Linked DNA regions of Homo sapiens: region 2 is linked to region 1. The links come from fine-mapping of genetic effects on gene expression. Tissue or cell type: prefrontal cortex. Region 1 holds a variant in brackets; the other region holds the start of a gene. All regions are shown on one strand. Distances are from middle to middle.

The links. PIP is the estimated chance that this variant, and not a neighbour inherited with it, causes the effect.
Region 2: it holds the start of KIF15, and the variant in region 1 is fine-mapped to the expression of KIF15 in prefrontal cortex (ROSMAP, PIP 0.95).

The regions. Positions count from the first base shown.
Region 1 is chr3:44,803,521-44,811,781 of GRCh38, forward strand. KIF15 (kinesin family member 15) reads left to right here. Exons shown (of 35, transcript NM_020242.3): 15 at 1,507-1,648; 16 at 2,325-2,466; 17 at 7,326-7,523. Among named protein-coding and RNA genes, the nearest start is that of KIF15, 46 kb to the left of the region's middle. The variant A/T (reference allele first, on the strand shown) is at 5,090.
Region 2 is chr3:44,758,523-44,766,561 of GRCh38, forward strand. KIF15 (kinesin family member 15) reads left to right here and starts at 3,272. Exons shown (of 35, transcript NM_020242.3): 1 at 3,272-3,362. The coding sequence starts at 3,344. KIAA1143 reads right to left here and starts at 3,097. Exons shown (of 3, transcript NM_020696.4): 1 at 2,973-3,097. The coding sequence starts at 3,080. RefSeq lists enhancers at 1,610-2,252, 3,043-3,322.

The sequences.
Region 1 (8,261 bases):
GTTTAGTTAATACTAAATCTGCCTTACAGTCTTGACAGCTGTTGGTGTTCATACCCTGGGATTTGGTAACAAAGTCTGTGTTTGCCCCAGTCTTAGAGTTAATATTTTCACGGTCTTTTATCATAGACTTGGCCTTGGTTTCCTTTTAGGTTGAAATTGAAAAAGTTCTAATGTTTTTATTCTGCATTCATAAAGAAGACTGTCTCTTTGCTTTTTAAAATTTCATTTTTTAAGCCTTCTTCCATTCTGTTATGACTGAATAGAATAATAAGAGTCACAGTAACTGGGTTGGGGAGAGACTTAAGATATTAGATGCAAAATTACTATCAGGTTTTCTGTTGTTTTTTTTGAGATGGAGTCTCACTCTGTCACCCAGGCTGTAGTGCAGTGGTGCGATCTCGGCTCACTGCAACCTCCACCTCCTGGATTCAAGCAATTCTCCTGCCTCAGGCTCCCTCCTGGGATTACAGTCACACACCACCACACCGAGCCAATTTTTGTATTTTTGGTAGAGATGGGGTTTCACCATGTTGGCCAGGCTGGTCTTGAACTTCTGGCTTCAAATGATCCACCCACTTCGGCCTCCCAAAGTGCTGGGATTACAGATGTGAGCCCCAACGCCTGACTTAGGTTTTCTGTTTTATTTAAACTACTTTTCCCTACAGTGCCCTTTATTTTGTTGGCCATTTTGTTGTGGCCTCCATAATACCTTGACTTACTCCCTTCAGAAGATACTAATGTCTGGATCTCATCAGTTTCTAAACATTGATCATTCTCTAAACAACTTTTACATGATCTTTTCCCACACTGAAACTCAGTGGACTCTCTTCAACATATTCAGTGTTCTAGGCATTTCCTGAAAATTAATATTTTCTACCTGATAGATGATACCGGGTTCTTACAACCTGCTGCCCTTGCTATTTGTTTCCTTTTCTAAATAATTCCTTGGCTGTTAACATTAGCTGCTAGCACTAATTCCTACAAGATTCACTGGCTGCTGTTTCTCTGTCTAGCATTAGGCGTGCCACACTTTCGTCATTGTTTGTTCTTTCTCCTAATGGGAAAGGTGTTGCCTTAACTACACTTCTCCATCCTGTGGCATCTGCTTCTTAAACATGACTTCTAATCCCCTTTGGCACACTGTGTCACATCCTGTGCCTTCTGCTGAGTTATAAGCTTTTGTATTTTAGGGCTCGCTTTCCAACCCATTTCTCACTTTTCCTCCTTGTGGCCCAAAATTGATACCTGACAGAGAACTTAGAAAATGTGTCCTGTTATTTTTGCTTGTCAAACACTGAAGTTGTAAAGCTAGGCATGGTGGCATGCACCTGTAGTCCCAACTATTTGGGAGGCTAAAGCAGGGGGTTCACTTGAGACCAGAATTTGGGGCTTTAGTACACTATGATCATGCTTGTGAATAGCCACTGCACTCTAGCCTGGGCAACATAGTGAGGCCCTGTCTCAGAAAAAAAAAAAAAAAGACTGAGATTGTTTTCTTATTAACAGATCAGCAAGGATTTTCACCTAAAGCTCAGAAAGAGCCATGTTTGTTTGCAAACACTGAGAAGTTAAAAGCACAACTCCTGCAAATTCAGACAGAGCTGAATAATTCAAAGCAAGAATATGAAGAATTCAAAGAACTTACTAGGTAAAGTCTAAATACACATGCATGCACACTTATTTTCTTTCAGTGTTCATTTGCTGTAGTGTTAATATCGATAATTCAATTGGGCATTTTACTTTAAATATTAAACTCTCATAGCAGCAACTACTTTGACATGAAGAGAAAGAGCATGCTTCTAGCTCTTTACTAATATATTCAATGAACTAGGTAATACAGGTGTTTTAAGCAGTTTTTTCCTGTTGAGAGTCTATTGAACTTGCATAGTAAATTATTTAAATTTAAATTTGATAATCAGAGTTGTTAAGACTTTTAGGAAGTATAGGTTTGTTAATATTCCTACTTGATTCTCACTATGTAAAAACAAAGATAAATCACATTCATATTATAACTAAGATCAATCTTACCCTAAAATATAAACAAATGTTTGGTTCAAAAATGACATATCACATATGGTATAATCATGGACTATTTGTTTGGGCTTTTGAATTTGAGCCCTACCATTTACTAGTTGAATCCCTTAAACAGTCTCTGAGCTGTAGTTTACTGAACTGGAGAATGATGGGAATAATCTGAGAGAATAGAGAATATCTCTGATTTAGAGATAACTATAAAGTTATGTGAGAGCATAAACTGTAAAGTATTCTATAAATGTTTGACATTACTTATTACCTGAAATACTCCGTTTTACAATATCTATTAGGAAAAGGCAGCTAGAATTGGAATCAGAGCTTCAGTCTTTGCAAAAAGCGAACCTTAATCTTGAAAACCTTTTGGAAGCAACAAAAGCCTGCAAGCGGCAAGAAGTTTCTCAGCTGAATAAAATTCATGCTGAAACACTTAAGGTAGGTCATCTGAACAATACCTCCACCTTAAATCAGTGCAATGTCATTTTATTAATAATGGAGAGAGTCTGCATGGTCTATCTCCAGATGCAGATGACATCCCATGCAGGTAATTAACACCGGTGTCACACTGGTCTTTGGGTTACTGCTAGCAATCCCACTGATGTATCCCCCCAGTGGTAGGGTGGGGTAGGAAAGAATTCAGCATTTGCAATCAAATTCGAATGTGCCATTAACTTTAGTCAGGGTTTCCTAACTTCTGAGCCTTATCTTTCTTTTCTCTAAATTGGAAATGAAGGTAATTTACTTGCAGAGTTTTAGAGTACTAAATGAGATAGATAAGCTGCCTGGTACCTTGTAGATATCAGTAAAATGGCAGCTATTACTACAATATAACATGTCCTCAAAGTTTTCAGTAGAATAGAAACCCTAATGGGCAAAGACCGCTAAGGGATCACAGGTGCCACTGGAAATAACATGAGAGGGTTTTGTCCTAAATAACCACATCCCTCATAAAAGAAAAAAAAATGTGTGAACAACTGAGAATGAGGAGAGAGAAAGGAAGTACACAAGGAAAACAAAAGGTTGAGGAGGTGATACTGATTTCAGCTTTTGTATCCAATTTTTTGAAGGTTAAAAAATTTTTTCCTTAGCTGGGTGTGGTGGTGCAGGCCTGTAGTCCCGGCTGTTTGGGAGGTTGAGGCAAGAGGATTGCTTGAGCCCAGGAATTCAAGTCCAGCTTGAATTCAAGTTCTTTTCTTTTCTTTTCTTTTTTTTAAGACAGAGTCTTGCTCTGTCGGCCAGGCTGGAGTGCAGTGGTGCAATCTCAGCTCACTGCAACCTCCGCCTCCCAGGTTCAAGCGATTCTCCTGCCTCAGCCTCCCGAGTAGCTGGGATTACAGGCGCCTGCCACCATGCCCGGATAATTTTTGTATTTTCAGTAGAGATGGGGTTTCGCCATGTTGGCCAGGCTGGTCTCGAACTCATGACCTCGTGATCTGCCTGCCTCGGCCTCCCAAAGTGCTAGGATTACAGGCAAGAGCCACTGCGCTGGCCTCAAGTTCTTTTCAATAAAAGAAAGAAATAGAGAAGACCGAAAACCTTTCCTTATATGTCTTAGAATATAAATAGATGTTTATTTATAATGATTATTTTTAGTAGTGGTGCTTTTTGTGTCACTTAATGGAAGACTACTTGTATTCATTTGAATAGGTAATTTATGTGACTGAAATTTCCTTTCTTTTCTTTTTTTTTTGAGACGGAGTTTTGCTCTTGTTGCCCAGGTTGGAGTGCAGTGGCACGATCTTGGCTCACTGCAACCTCTGCTTCCTGGGTTCAAGCGATTCTCCTGCCTCTGCCTCCCGAGTAGTTGGGATTCCAGGCGCCTGCCCCAACACCCAGCTGATTTTTGTATTTTTAGTAGAGACGAGGTTTCACCATGTTGGCCAGGCTAGTCTCGAACTCCTGACCTCAGGTGATCCGCCCGTCTCGCCTCCCAAAGTGCTGGGATTATAGGTGTGAGCCACCGCGCCCAGCCTGTGACTGAAATTTTCAAAGGCATTTAGTAGCAAATCTCTTTCCTTCTGTTGTTCTTCCAGCCAACCAAGAACTGGAGGCAATCAGTGTCACCAAGTCAATCAATGTCACCAAGTATTTTCTCACTTTACACAAATGGTGGCATAACATACACATCATTCTACAGCTTGAGGGTGTGTGTGTGTGTGTGTGTGTTTTAAAGCAATATTTTAGAGTTTGTCCCATGTCTGCAGGGGAAAAAATGTTCTCCCCCTTTTTGTTTCTGTTTTGATTTTTTATTTGTTTTGGCAGCAGCTCAAGAATGTTATGTGGATATATAATGATTTATTCAACCTGGAAAATGCTGGGTTTTTTCCTATACAGGTAGAAATTTAAAAATTATTTTTAAATTTTGATTTATTTTATTTATTTATTTTTGGTTTTGTTTTTTAGAGACAGAGTCTTGCTCTGTCACTCAGGCTGGAGTGCAGTGGCATGATCATGGCTCACTGCAGCCTTGAACTCCTGGCTTCAAGTGATCCTCCTGGAGCCTCAGCCTCCCAGAGCACTAGGATTACAGGTGTGAGCCACCATGCCTGACCAGAATTTTTTTTTACTGTTGCTTTTTAAAAAAGGTGGTCTTTGAAGTTTTTGTAAGAAATTATTGAAAAATACTTGCAGAATACTGCCAAATGTTTTATAATTCTGTGTCTGTAGCCCCTTAGCACAATGGAATTATAGAGCTTGAAGCACCACGGCATTCTCGTCCTACTTCTTCCTTTTATGACTGAGCAAACAGGACTCAGAGGATTAGGTTTGCCAGGAGGGGCATAGCAATTCAGAGTCTTTGTTGTTGTTTTAGTTGGACAACTACTATATGAATACATTCTCTTTGTTTAAAAGAAAGACACATATTTCAAGTTAAAGTTAAAATTCCTTTTCAGCATCACTTCCAATCTGGATCTAATATAATCCTTTGTCCCCACAATCCCTGGAGGTAGTTTAATCCTTTTTCTTAGCATTTTTGTACTGTTAATATATACAGACTGAGAAAACACATAGAGTTGTTTCCTAGATTGTGTATTGTTTTGCTTTTTTTTTTTTTTTT[A/T]AAAAAAAACGGTCATTCTTCATGTGTTATTCCACAATATGCTTTTGTTAACTCAGGGATATGCCTTAGATCTTTCCACATTAACTGGTACCTAGAGCCTCATTTGGATGTGAGGCTCAAGGAATATGAGCCTCATACCAGTTAACGTGAGGCTCAAGGGTTATGAGCCTCATACCAGTTAATGTGGAAAGATCCAAGGCATCTCCTTTGAGGGACAGAAGAATTATAGAGCTTGAATTATAGAGCTTGAAGCACCATGAGGGATATCCCCTTGGGGGATATGCCTTGGATCTTTCCATATTAACTGGTACCTACCTCATTTTAACCCTAGGTTTCTATGGCTTAAGTAGATGGTTTCCAGTGCGTGCATTCTCTGGGGGTGGATTCCGTTAAAGGAGAAGTGGTCATTTTAGGATGTCTTAGCATTTGAGTGAGTCAAGCTGAAGCTCCCTCCTAGTGCCCTGTTCCCGCAGCATAGATGCATAGATGCACTCCTTTCCCAGCACTGTCCGCAGGAACTGGGATTGTCATGCTTGTTAATGTTTGACCATCTGATGGGTAAAAAATGAGATCTTGTTGTTAAGGTTTTAATTCTCATTTCTCTAATTTCAAATATCTTTTCATATGTTCATGTCCATTTGTATATCCTATTCCCTGAAAAGAAAAACTATTGTTTTTTTATATTTTTCTTCAGATTTTGTTTTTATGTAATAAGCATTTGTTTGTTAGGTGTACTGCCAATATATTCCTCCATCATGTTGCTTGTCTTTCATCTTTGCATGTGATGCTTTTGTTATATAGAAGTTTTATATTTTTGATGTAGCCAGGTTTATTGACCTTTTATCTTTATGACTTTTTTGCCTTTAATTTTGCTTTACATTGAGGTGTTTGTGTATCCACTGTTTTTCTTTTGAATGGTATGAGAAAGGGATTTAACTTAAAAAAAGTAATACAGCTAGGCATAGTGGCTCACACCTGTAATCTTAACACTTGGGGAGGCAGAAGCAGGAGGATTGCTTGAATCTAGGAGTTCAAGACCAGCTTGGGCAACATAGTAAGACCCTACCTCTGCAAAAAAAAAAAAAATTTAAATTAGCCAAGCATGGTGGTGTGCACCTTTGGTCTCAACTACTCCTGATACCTAAAATTTCCACAGAAAGATTATTCTATTTCTGGGCGGGGTGTGGTGTCTCACGCCTGTAATTCTAGCACTTTGGGAGGCCAAAGCGGGCAGATCACTTGAGGCCAGGAGTTGGAGACCAGCCTGGCCAACATGGTGAAACCCCATCTCTACTAAAACTACAAAAATTAACCAGGCATGGTGGTGTGTGCCTGTAGTCCCAGCTACTTGGGAGGCTGAGGCAGGAGAATTGCTTGAACCTGGGAGGCAGAGGTTGTGGTGAGCCAAGATTACACCACTGCACTCCAGCCTGGGCAACAGAACAAGACTGTGTCTCAAAAAATAATAATAATTCTATTTCTGGACTTTGTATTTCCTCCCAGTGTTCTATTTGAATGTACATAAGCTAATGTACTGTTTTAATATAATGTACTGTAATGTAATGTACTATTTTAATGACCATACTCCCATACCCCTATGTATTTTTATATCAGATGGGGAAGTCTTCCTAATTTGTTCTTTTTATTTTTATTTTTTTGAGAGACAGGGTCTCAGTCTGTCACTCAGGCTGGAGTGCAATGGTGTGATAATAGCTCACTGCAACCTAGAACACCTGGGCTCTGGGGATCCTCCTGCCTCAGCTTCCCAAGTAGCTGGGACTACAGGCCTGGGACACCATGCCCAGCTAATTAAAATGATTTTTTTTTTTGGTAGAGACAGGATCTCACTATGTTGCCCAGCCTGGTCTTGGACTCCTGGCCTCAAGTGATCCTCCCCTTCTCAGCCTCCCACGGTGTTGGGATTATAGCCATGAACCACCATGCCTGGCTTGTTCTTTTTAATTGTCTTGTCTCTTCTTGTACATTTATTCTTTGTATGAAAATAGATATCAGCTCATTAAGTTTATTTTTAAAAATTGTATTAGAATTTTGCTTGGGACTGCATTGAATTGATAAATTTATTTCCACTTGGGCATTTTTGTACTGTGTCTCAAGGGTACTTTTTCCTTTCTTTTCATGAATAGTATTTCAATTTTATCCTCTCTATTCACAAAATTATTAAATATGCCCTTTTTAAATATGTGCTAATGTTTTCCATAATCATTTTTTGCTGCAGATTATAACTACACCAACCAAGGCCTACCAACTTCATTCCCGACCAGTACCAAAATTAAGCCCTGAAATGGGAAGCTTTGGCTCTCTATACACTCAGAATTCTAGCATATTAGATAATGATATATTAAATGAGCCAGTTCCTCCTGAGATGAATGAACAAGCTTTTGAGGCCATTTCTGAAGAGCTTAGAACAGTGCAGGTAATGTTTTGTTCTAGAAAAAATAAATAACTGGACATCCATTTAAATACATTTGCTTTGTTATTTTAATTCCCTATAAGTTACAGTGTTCAAAAGTGCTTAGTATTAAAATCATATCTTTTTAAGTGTGGGTTTATAATCATTCCTAGATTGGAAATCAGCCCACTCTTGCTTTTTGTCTCTACTTTACAATCTTTAGCAAGTCATTCTCCATGGGTTTTTGTTCCTTAGTGTATAAAATGACCAGTTGGCCACTAGCTCCAAGTTCCAGAACTGGTTTATATAGCAAAGTGCTGTATCTGCTAAAAAAAGTTAAAAGAGGCCGGGTGCGGTGGCTCACGCCTGTAATCCCAGCACTTTGGGAGGCTGAGGCAGGCATATCACGTGAGATCAAGAGTTTGAGACTAGCCTGACCAACATGGTGAAACCCCGTCTCTACTAAATAGACAAAATTAGCCGGGTGTGGTGGTACATGCCTGTAATCCCAGCTACTCGGGAGGCTGAGGCAGGAGAATTGCTTGAACCCGGGAGGCGGAGGTTGCAGTGAGCCGAGATCGCGCCACTGCACTCTAGCCTGGGCAACAAGAGTGAAACTCTGTCTCAAAAAAAAAGAAAGTTAAAAGAATCTTATTATAGATCAAATTTTAGACAGTTTTTAATATATTTGAAATAATGTGAAATTTGATTATTCCAGAATTTTTATGGTTTGTTAATTTTTTAAAAAGGTTTTCTACTGTC
Region 2 (8,039 bases), 45 kb before region 1:
CAATAAGAAGCAACTCATCTGTTCAATTTTTATGAGACTGCAACAACTTAGTCACATTTTCAGGCTCTACTTCTAATTCTAGTTCTTTTGCTTGTTCTACCACACCTGCAATTACTTCCTCCACTGAAGGCCTGAATCTCTCGAAGTCATCCATGAAGGTTGGAATCAACCTCTTCCAAATTCCTGTTAATGTTGATATTTTGCCCTCTTCCCATGAATCATGGATGTTCTTAACGTGTTTAGAATGGTGAAGCCTTTCCATAAAGTTTTCAATTTACAATATCCAGATGCATCAGAGGAATCACTATCCATGGCAGCTGTAGCCTTACAAATGGTTTTGACTTTTTTTTTTTTTTTTGAGACAGGGTCTGGCTCTGTTACCCAGGCTCGAGTGCAGTGGTGCAATCATGGCTGACTGCAGCCTCAACCTACCTGGGGTCAGGGAATCCTCCCACCTCAGCCTCCCAAGTAGCTGGGACCACAGGTGCATGCCACCACACTGGGCTAAATTTTGTATTTTTTGTAGAGATGGGGTCTCACCATGTTGGCCAGGCTGGTCTTGAACTCCTGGGCTCAAGCAATCCACCTGCCTTGACTTCCCAAAGTGCTGGGATTACAAGTGTGAGCCATTGCGCCTGGCTGTTATTTCTTAAATAATAAGACTGAAAATAGAAATTACTCCTTGATCCATGGGCTGCAGAATGGATGTTGTGTTAGCAGGCATGAAAACCCCACGTTAATCTCCTTGTAGATCTCCATCAGAGTTCTTGGGTGACCAAGTGTATTGTCCATGAGCAATAATATATTGAAAGAATCTTTTTTTTTCTGAGCAGTAGGTCTCAACAGTGGGCTAAAAATAATTCAGTAAACCATATTATAAAGAGATGTGCTGTCATCAAGGTTTTGTTTTTCCATTTCTAGAGCACAGGCAGAGTAGATTTAGCATAATTCTTACGGACCCTAGGATTTTTGGAATGGTAAGTATTAGCTTCAACTTAAAAGTCACCAGCTGCATTAGCTCCTAATGAGAGAGTTAGCCTGTCCTTTGAAAATATGAAGCCAGGCACTGACTTCTCTCTAGCTATGAAAGTCCTAAATGGCCCAGGCATAGTGGTTTTTGAGAGGCTTTGAGAGGCTAAAGTGGGAGGATTGCTTGAGTCCAGGAGTTTGAGACCAGCCTTGGCAACACAGTGGAATCCTGTCTCTACAAAAAAATACAAAAATTAGCCAGATGCGTTAGTTCATGCCTGTAGTCCCAGCTGCTTGAGAGGCTGAGGCAGGAGGATCACTTGAGCCCAGGAGGTCAAGGCTGCAGTGAGCTGTGATTGCACCACTGCACTCTAGCCTGGGCGACAGAGTGAGACCCTATCTCAAAAAAAAAAAAAAAAAAAAAGTCCTAGATGGCATCTTCTTCCAATAGAAGGCTGTTTCATCTACATTGAAAACCTGTTTAGTGTAGCCACCTTCATCAACTATCTTAGCTAGATCTGAATAATTTGCTTCTTCATCTCATACTTTTATGTTATGGAGATGGCTTCTTTCCTTAAACCTCATGAACCAACCTCTGTTAGCTTCACACTTTTCTTCTGCAGCTTTCTCACATGTCTCAGACTTCACAGGATTTAAGAGTTAGGGCCTTGCTCTAGATTAGGCTTTGGTTAAAGGGAATGTTGTGGCTGGTTTGCTCTTCTATCCAGACCACTAAAACTTTCTCTGTATCAGCAATGTAGCTGTTTTGCTTTCTTGTCATTCATGTGTTCAATACTGATCCCTCCGGCCCTAGACAACAATAGTCAGGTGTGGCTCTTTCCTGAAGCTCCTCTTCTTCTATTTAGACCCAGGATATTTACGGCTTCTGCTTACTCTTCTTTTTTTTCTTTTTTTTGAGACGGAGTCTCGCTCTGTCGCCCAGTCTGGAGTGCAGTGGCGCGATCTCGGCTCACTGCAAGCTCCTCCTCCTGGGTTCACGCCATTCTCCTGCCTCAGCCTCCCGAGTAGCTGGGACTACAGGCGCCCGCCACCATGCCTGGCTAATTTTTTGTATTTTTAGTAGAGACGCGGTTTCACTGTTTTAGCCAGGATGGTCTCGATCTCCTGACCTCGTGATCTGCCGCCTCAGCCTCCCAGAGCGCTGGGATTACAGGCGTGAGCCACCAGGCCCGGCTTTTTTTTTTTTTTTTTGAGACGGAGTCTCGCTCTGTTGTCCAGGCTGGAGTGCAGCTGCGCCATCTCAACTCACTGCAACGTCCACCTCCCGGGTTCGAGCGATTCTGTCTCAGCCTCCGGAGTAGCTGGGACTACAGGCATGTGCCACCATGCCCGGCTAATTTTTGTATTTTTAGCAGAGACGGGGGGTTTCACCATATTGGCTATTGGCTCTGCTGGTCTCGAACTCCTGACCTCAGGTGATCCGCCCACCTAGGCCTCCCAAAGTACTGGGATTACAGGCGTGAGCCACTGTGCCCGACCTTCTCTATATTATTTTTATTTATTTTTAATTAACAAAGCATAGAAACAGATTCAGGACATTCCTCCGAAGACGTTCCAGACTCGAGTCCTAGGACATGGTTGGGGCGGGGGTCATTTGATCGAGTGGCCTGTGTCCTTATCTGGAATACGGGACGACGCTGTAACTCTAACTCACCCTGCGAACTCACAGCTTTTGAGGTAAACAAGTGAGAAAGAAGAGACAATAAAGTGATCTTTCTTTACCATCTACCAAGGACCAGGTGGTTTACACGTCAGTTCATTTTCAGGAACACAGCAGCGCTCTGAAAACTACAGAGCTTCCTGGGCGTAGGGGGCTGTGGTCGCTTGAAAAGAACCAGCCTGGGGGTCCGAGTTCCACCGGAATTGGGTTCGAGCGCGGGTGAAAAGAGGGACCCGACAGCACCCACCCTCCAAGTAGAGGCAAAAGTTGAAAGTGGCGGGCTGGCTGCGCTTCCGAAGAAACACGACTGGCGAAGGCTCACCTTAGTCTCTACGGTGGGTCCCTCCCTGTAGCCGACCCGTTCCTTGAAGCGGGCCAGAAACGCCGGCTCGGCTGGCCGCACGTACGATACCTGGTTCCGCTTGCTCATGGTAGCTCTGGGTAAAGACAGAAGACAGGTTCCGCGACGGATTCGCGACGATACAGAGGCGCTTAGCTGTGACGTCACTGGGCCACGCCCCCGATGCGTAGGCCGGGCAACATGGCGGCCTCCATGCGGGCGTCAACGTCCGATCCAAGCGCCAAATTCAAATTTGCGGCCATCTTGAGCGGGCGGAATTCAGTCGCGCGCGGTGCAGTCGGGAGGTGGAGGCACCGGCTGCATTGTTTTCGGGATCGAGGGGTGAGGGCGCTATGGCACCCGGCTGCAAAAGTAAGTCTGGGCCCCCGGCTTCGTTACCCTATTTTTGCCCCCAAATACAGCTGTGAAAGGATGGCAGCCTCGGACCGCCCGCAAGGTTCTTGCTAGGCATGAACTGCAGGAGCTGAGTGACCGGCGGGGACGTTTGGGAATCCCGCTCTGTCGCTCAAAGACAATACGCTAGCCGAAAAGCTCATCCCTTCCTTCAGTGTCCTGTGCGCATGCCAGGAGTCTGGCGCAGTTCTAGGCGCTCGGGATGAGCAGTGGACCTGACGTTCTTCCCTTTCTTTCCCTTGGTTCTGCTGTTTCTTCGCAGGCCTCTTCCCACATCCCGACCAGGGCTACCTCTCTAGATATCCTTGTCTCAGGATCGGCTTTTGCTCCCACCAGCTTCTGCGTATTTCTACATTTCTGACCTTCCTATAGGGAAGGGTTTATTTATATTCCAAACATTTCTTTCTCCTCTTTCCTTAAATAAATGGAATGTTAAAACACAGATGTCAGCAATGTCTTTATGTTCTCACAGTCTCTATTTTCACTTAAAGGAGACCCGTCCGATTTCTTTCTCTTTTTCACGGAGGAGAGCACTGTCATTTTGCTTATGATAAACCCTACAGTTTTCACTAACGTAGTCATTTGCTGTGCCTGTGTACGTGCTCCACTTCTCACATTGCCACATCTCTTAAGGAGTCTTATTTTTGTAAACCTGATTATGAGCTGATTTAATGGGATCTTTGTGAGTGGTCTGAATGGTAATGAGGAGAGGCCTGGATTAGATGATTAAGAATTTGTGAACTTCTGTCATTTGAGCTTTCCAACGCCGTTAATGTTTCTAGCTTTCTGTCAATTGTAGTCGTTTTTGATGGGTTTGTTGTTTCATTAATCTTTTAGGTCGATCACACCTAATCGGAACACCTCCTTATGCTACCTTTTTGCATATAAAATATTCCTTTTCCTTTCATCATTTTCAGTATTCAAGGACTATGAGCTCACAAAATGGTACCTTATTGGAGAGAAATGTTCATCCTGCTTTCTGAACAATCATACTGTTTGTTCTTTGTTTCCACTTTATGGATCAGTCACTAAATCTGGACTCAAGCAAAAAATTTGATGCCTGTTAAATAAGTAAAACATCTGCTTATTTAATGAGATATATGTATGTGACTGAGGGCTCTTGTCTGAAAACCAAATTTGAGAACCTTTCTAAAGTGGTGGGAGCACTCTCCTTTATGATGGTGGTGATGCCATGGGGAACTTTTCCACTCCTTTAAGTTTGTTGGCAAAATTGAGGTTGATGACTTCCCAGTTAAAGTGCTTCTTGCATTCCCAGCAGCCCAGAGGCCTGGAGCATGAAGTGGGAACACATGGGAGAAGAGAGCCCGTGCAGTGGTCTTTGCAACTTTTACTTTGTGCCCCGAAGGCTATCTCTCTCTCTCTTTTTTATTTTTGAGACAGAGTCTTGCTCTATTGCCGGGCTGGAGTGCAGTGGTGCGATATTGGCTCACTGCAACCTCCGCCTCCCGGGTTCAAGAGATTCTCCTGCCTGAGTCTCCCAAGTAGCTGGGATTACAGGCACGCGCCACCATGCCCAGCTAATTTTTTTATTTTTAGTAAAGCCGGGGTTTCACTGTGTTGGCCAGGATGGTCTCGATCTCCTGACCTCGTGATTTGCCCACCTTGGCCTCCCAAAGTGCTGGGATTACAGGCATGAGCCACCACACCCGGCCCCATGAAGGCTATCTCTAGTGACATCATTGACACCATGAGTTGCTGACTGTGAAATCAGAGAAATGAAAAAGTGAAATATACGATTCCCCCCTTTTTTTTTTTAAAGACAGTGTTGCTCTGTCACCCAGGCTGGCTGGAGTGCAGTGACGCAATCTTGGCTCACTGCAATCTCCACCTCCTGGGTTCAAGCAGTACTCGTGCCTCAGCCTCCCAAGTAGCTGGGACTACAGGCGTGCACCACCATGCCCTGCTAATTTTTTGTATTTTAGTAGAGACAGGGTTTCACCATGTTGCCCAGGCTGGTCTTGAACTCCTGAACTCAAGCAATCCACCTGCCTTGGCCTCCCAAAGTGCTAGGATTACAGGCGTGAGCCACTGCACCTGGCCTAAGATTCCCTTTCTGAACCCAATCATGTTTGGGCAAATGACTGATGAGTATTTATCTAGACTGCAGAGTAAAGCATCCAATGGTCTGTTTTAAAGCAGGAAGACTCTTTAAAAGACTTACTGTTTTGTTGAGGTATAGCTTCATGCAGTTAAGGGCACAAATCTTAATATTATTCAACAAATTTTTACATATAAATACACTAATGTAACCACCATCCAGATCAAGAAATAGAACTGTTCCTGTACTCCAGAAAGTTCCCTGTGACCCTTCCTAGTCAATAACTACCTGATCCCCAACCATTACTCTGATTATTATTATCACTGATTAGTTTTGCTTCTATTCTTGAACTTAATATAAATGGTACAGTATGTATTCTTTTTTTATTCTGGTTTCTTCAACTGAACATTATGTCTGTGATCATTGTCCATCATTGTATGTAGCAGCAGTTCTTTTTCATTGCTGTGTAGTGTTCCATTATGTGAGTATACCATGATTTGTTTATTCTCCTGTTGATTGACATTTGGGTTTTTATTATAGTTAGGGCTGTTATGAATAAAGCTACTGAGAATAGACTTAAGCATATTTTTAGATGGACACATAGAGGACCTCAAAGTTGAAAGAATTTTACAGTGAATGCCTATAGACTTCATTTTTTTCTTTTCTTTTTTGAGACAGAGTCTTGCTCTGTCACCCAGGCTGAAGTGCAGGGGTGCGATCTTGGCTCACTGCAACCTCCATCTCTGTTCAAGTGATTACTCCTGCCTCAGCCTCCTGAGTAGCTGGGACTACAGGCAACCACCACCAAGCCTGGCTATTTTTTATATTTTTAGTAGAGGCAGGGTTTCACCATATTGGCAAGGCTGGTCTCAAACTCCTGACCTCAAATGATCCACCCACCTTGGTCTCCCAAAGTGTTGGGATCACAGGTGTGAGCCACTGCACCCAGCCTAGACTTCCTTTAAATGTCAAAATTTTATGACAGCCACATGATAAACTTTTATACTCTCTTTAACCTTTGATCAAGAGGTAGCATATTGAGGTGGTTAAGAGTAGGAGATCTGGATTTAGCATGCCTTCGTTCAAATCCTAGCACTTCTCAATGATGTTTCCTTAGATCTCAATTAGAAATAATGCCAGAACTATCTACATTTGTGTAGTTTTAAATTTCACTTTCTCTCGCTATTTGCTTATTAACTTTTCTTCTTTTTTTATCAAGTAAACATTTTACTTTGGGTTCCTTTTAGATTTACCAGAAAGTTGCACATAAGTGCAGATCAGTATCCATCTAATCATTTTCCATCTGATCAGTTACAGAGATCTCTGCAGAAATGAAGAGCTGGCAGCCTACCTTCTGGGGCTTCTTATTGTTGTTTGCTTGTGTATTTGCTTAGCAACTGGCTGGATCAATTTAGTGAAGTCTATTTCCCTCCTATACTGTTAAGCCTTTGATATTGCTCCTCAGGAATCCAAAGCTCCAGCTTTGGATATGCCCACCTTTATCCTGGGATGACAGTGGTTTTGGTAGGGATCTCTTTCTTTCTATGACTGCACACAGCTGTTAAACTCCAGTAATTGTTAGCTGATTGCTCTATTGTTTTTTAACAATGCCCTGGGCATAAATTGTCTTACAAACTACTTCAATTCTTGCTCCATTGAAGGAGTAGTTTTTGAGGTTTTCTTTCATATTTCTTGTGACTCCAGTGTAGCTACTCCTAATTGTCTTATATCCCCATTGTCTTCTGCAAGTGAACAGGCCTGCAATTTAGCTTGTATCTTGAATGTCTTCCTAATTACTTTCACTAAAACCTACACTGTTCCTGAGAGTGCCCTTAGGTTTGAACTTCTCTCCACCCCCTCTCCCCCAGACGGAGTCTCGCTCTGTCACCTAGGCTGTACCACAGTGGCGTGGACTCAGCTCACTGCAACCTCCACCTCCTGAGTTCAAGCGATTCTCCTGCCTCAGCCTCCCAAGTAGCTGAGATTACAGGCATGTGCCACCATGCCCAGCTAATTTTTGTTTTGTATTTTTAGTAGAGAGACGGGGTTTCACCATGTTGGTCAGGCCGGTCTCAAACTCCTGACCTCAAATGATCTACCTGCCTCGGCCTCCCAAAGTGCTGGGATTACATCATGAGCCACCACACCTAGACAGGTTTGAACTTCTCTATGCTTTGTTGCAAATGAATTCAGCTCCTTTGGGAAGAGATTAGGAGTTATCTGTTTATGGGCTGATTCTTCCTTTAGGCAAAATCTCAGAGCCTGGGGACTTGAGTTGGGGATGGGGATAATGGCAGTCTTGTCTCTGAGTGATACCCTTTGTAGTTGCTGAGCATTTTGTGGGGAAGGTGGGGAGTGTAGCAGCCCACCTTCTAGACTTTCCTTTCCTTGTGCAGAACCACTGCCTAATGAGTTGGGGCAAGGGTGATCAGGGCCCCAGTGTTCTTAGCATGCAGTTGCAAGATGAGGGCTGTGTGGGAGAAGGGAGAGCCCTCACCTCTCAACCACACTTGTCTGGGACTTTATCTGAGCATCAGGTAGCTAGCTGGAGACACAATGATACACTGACATCCTGC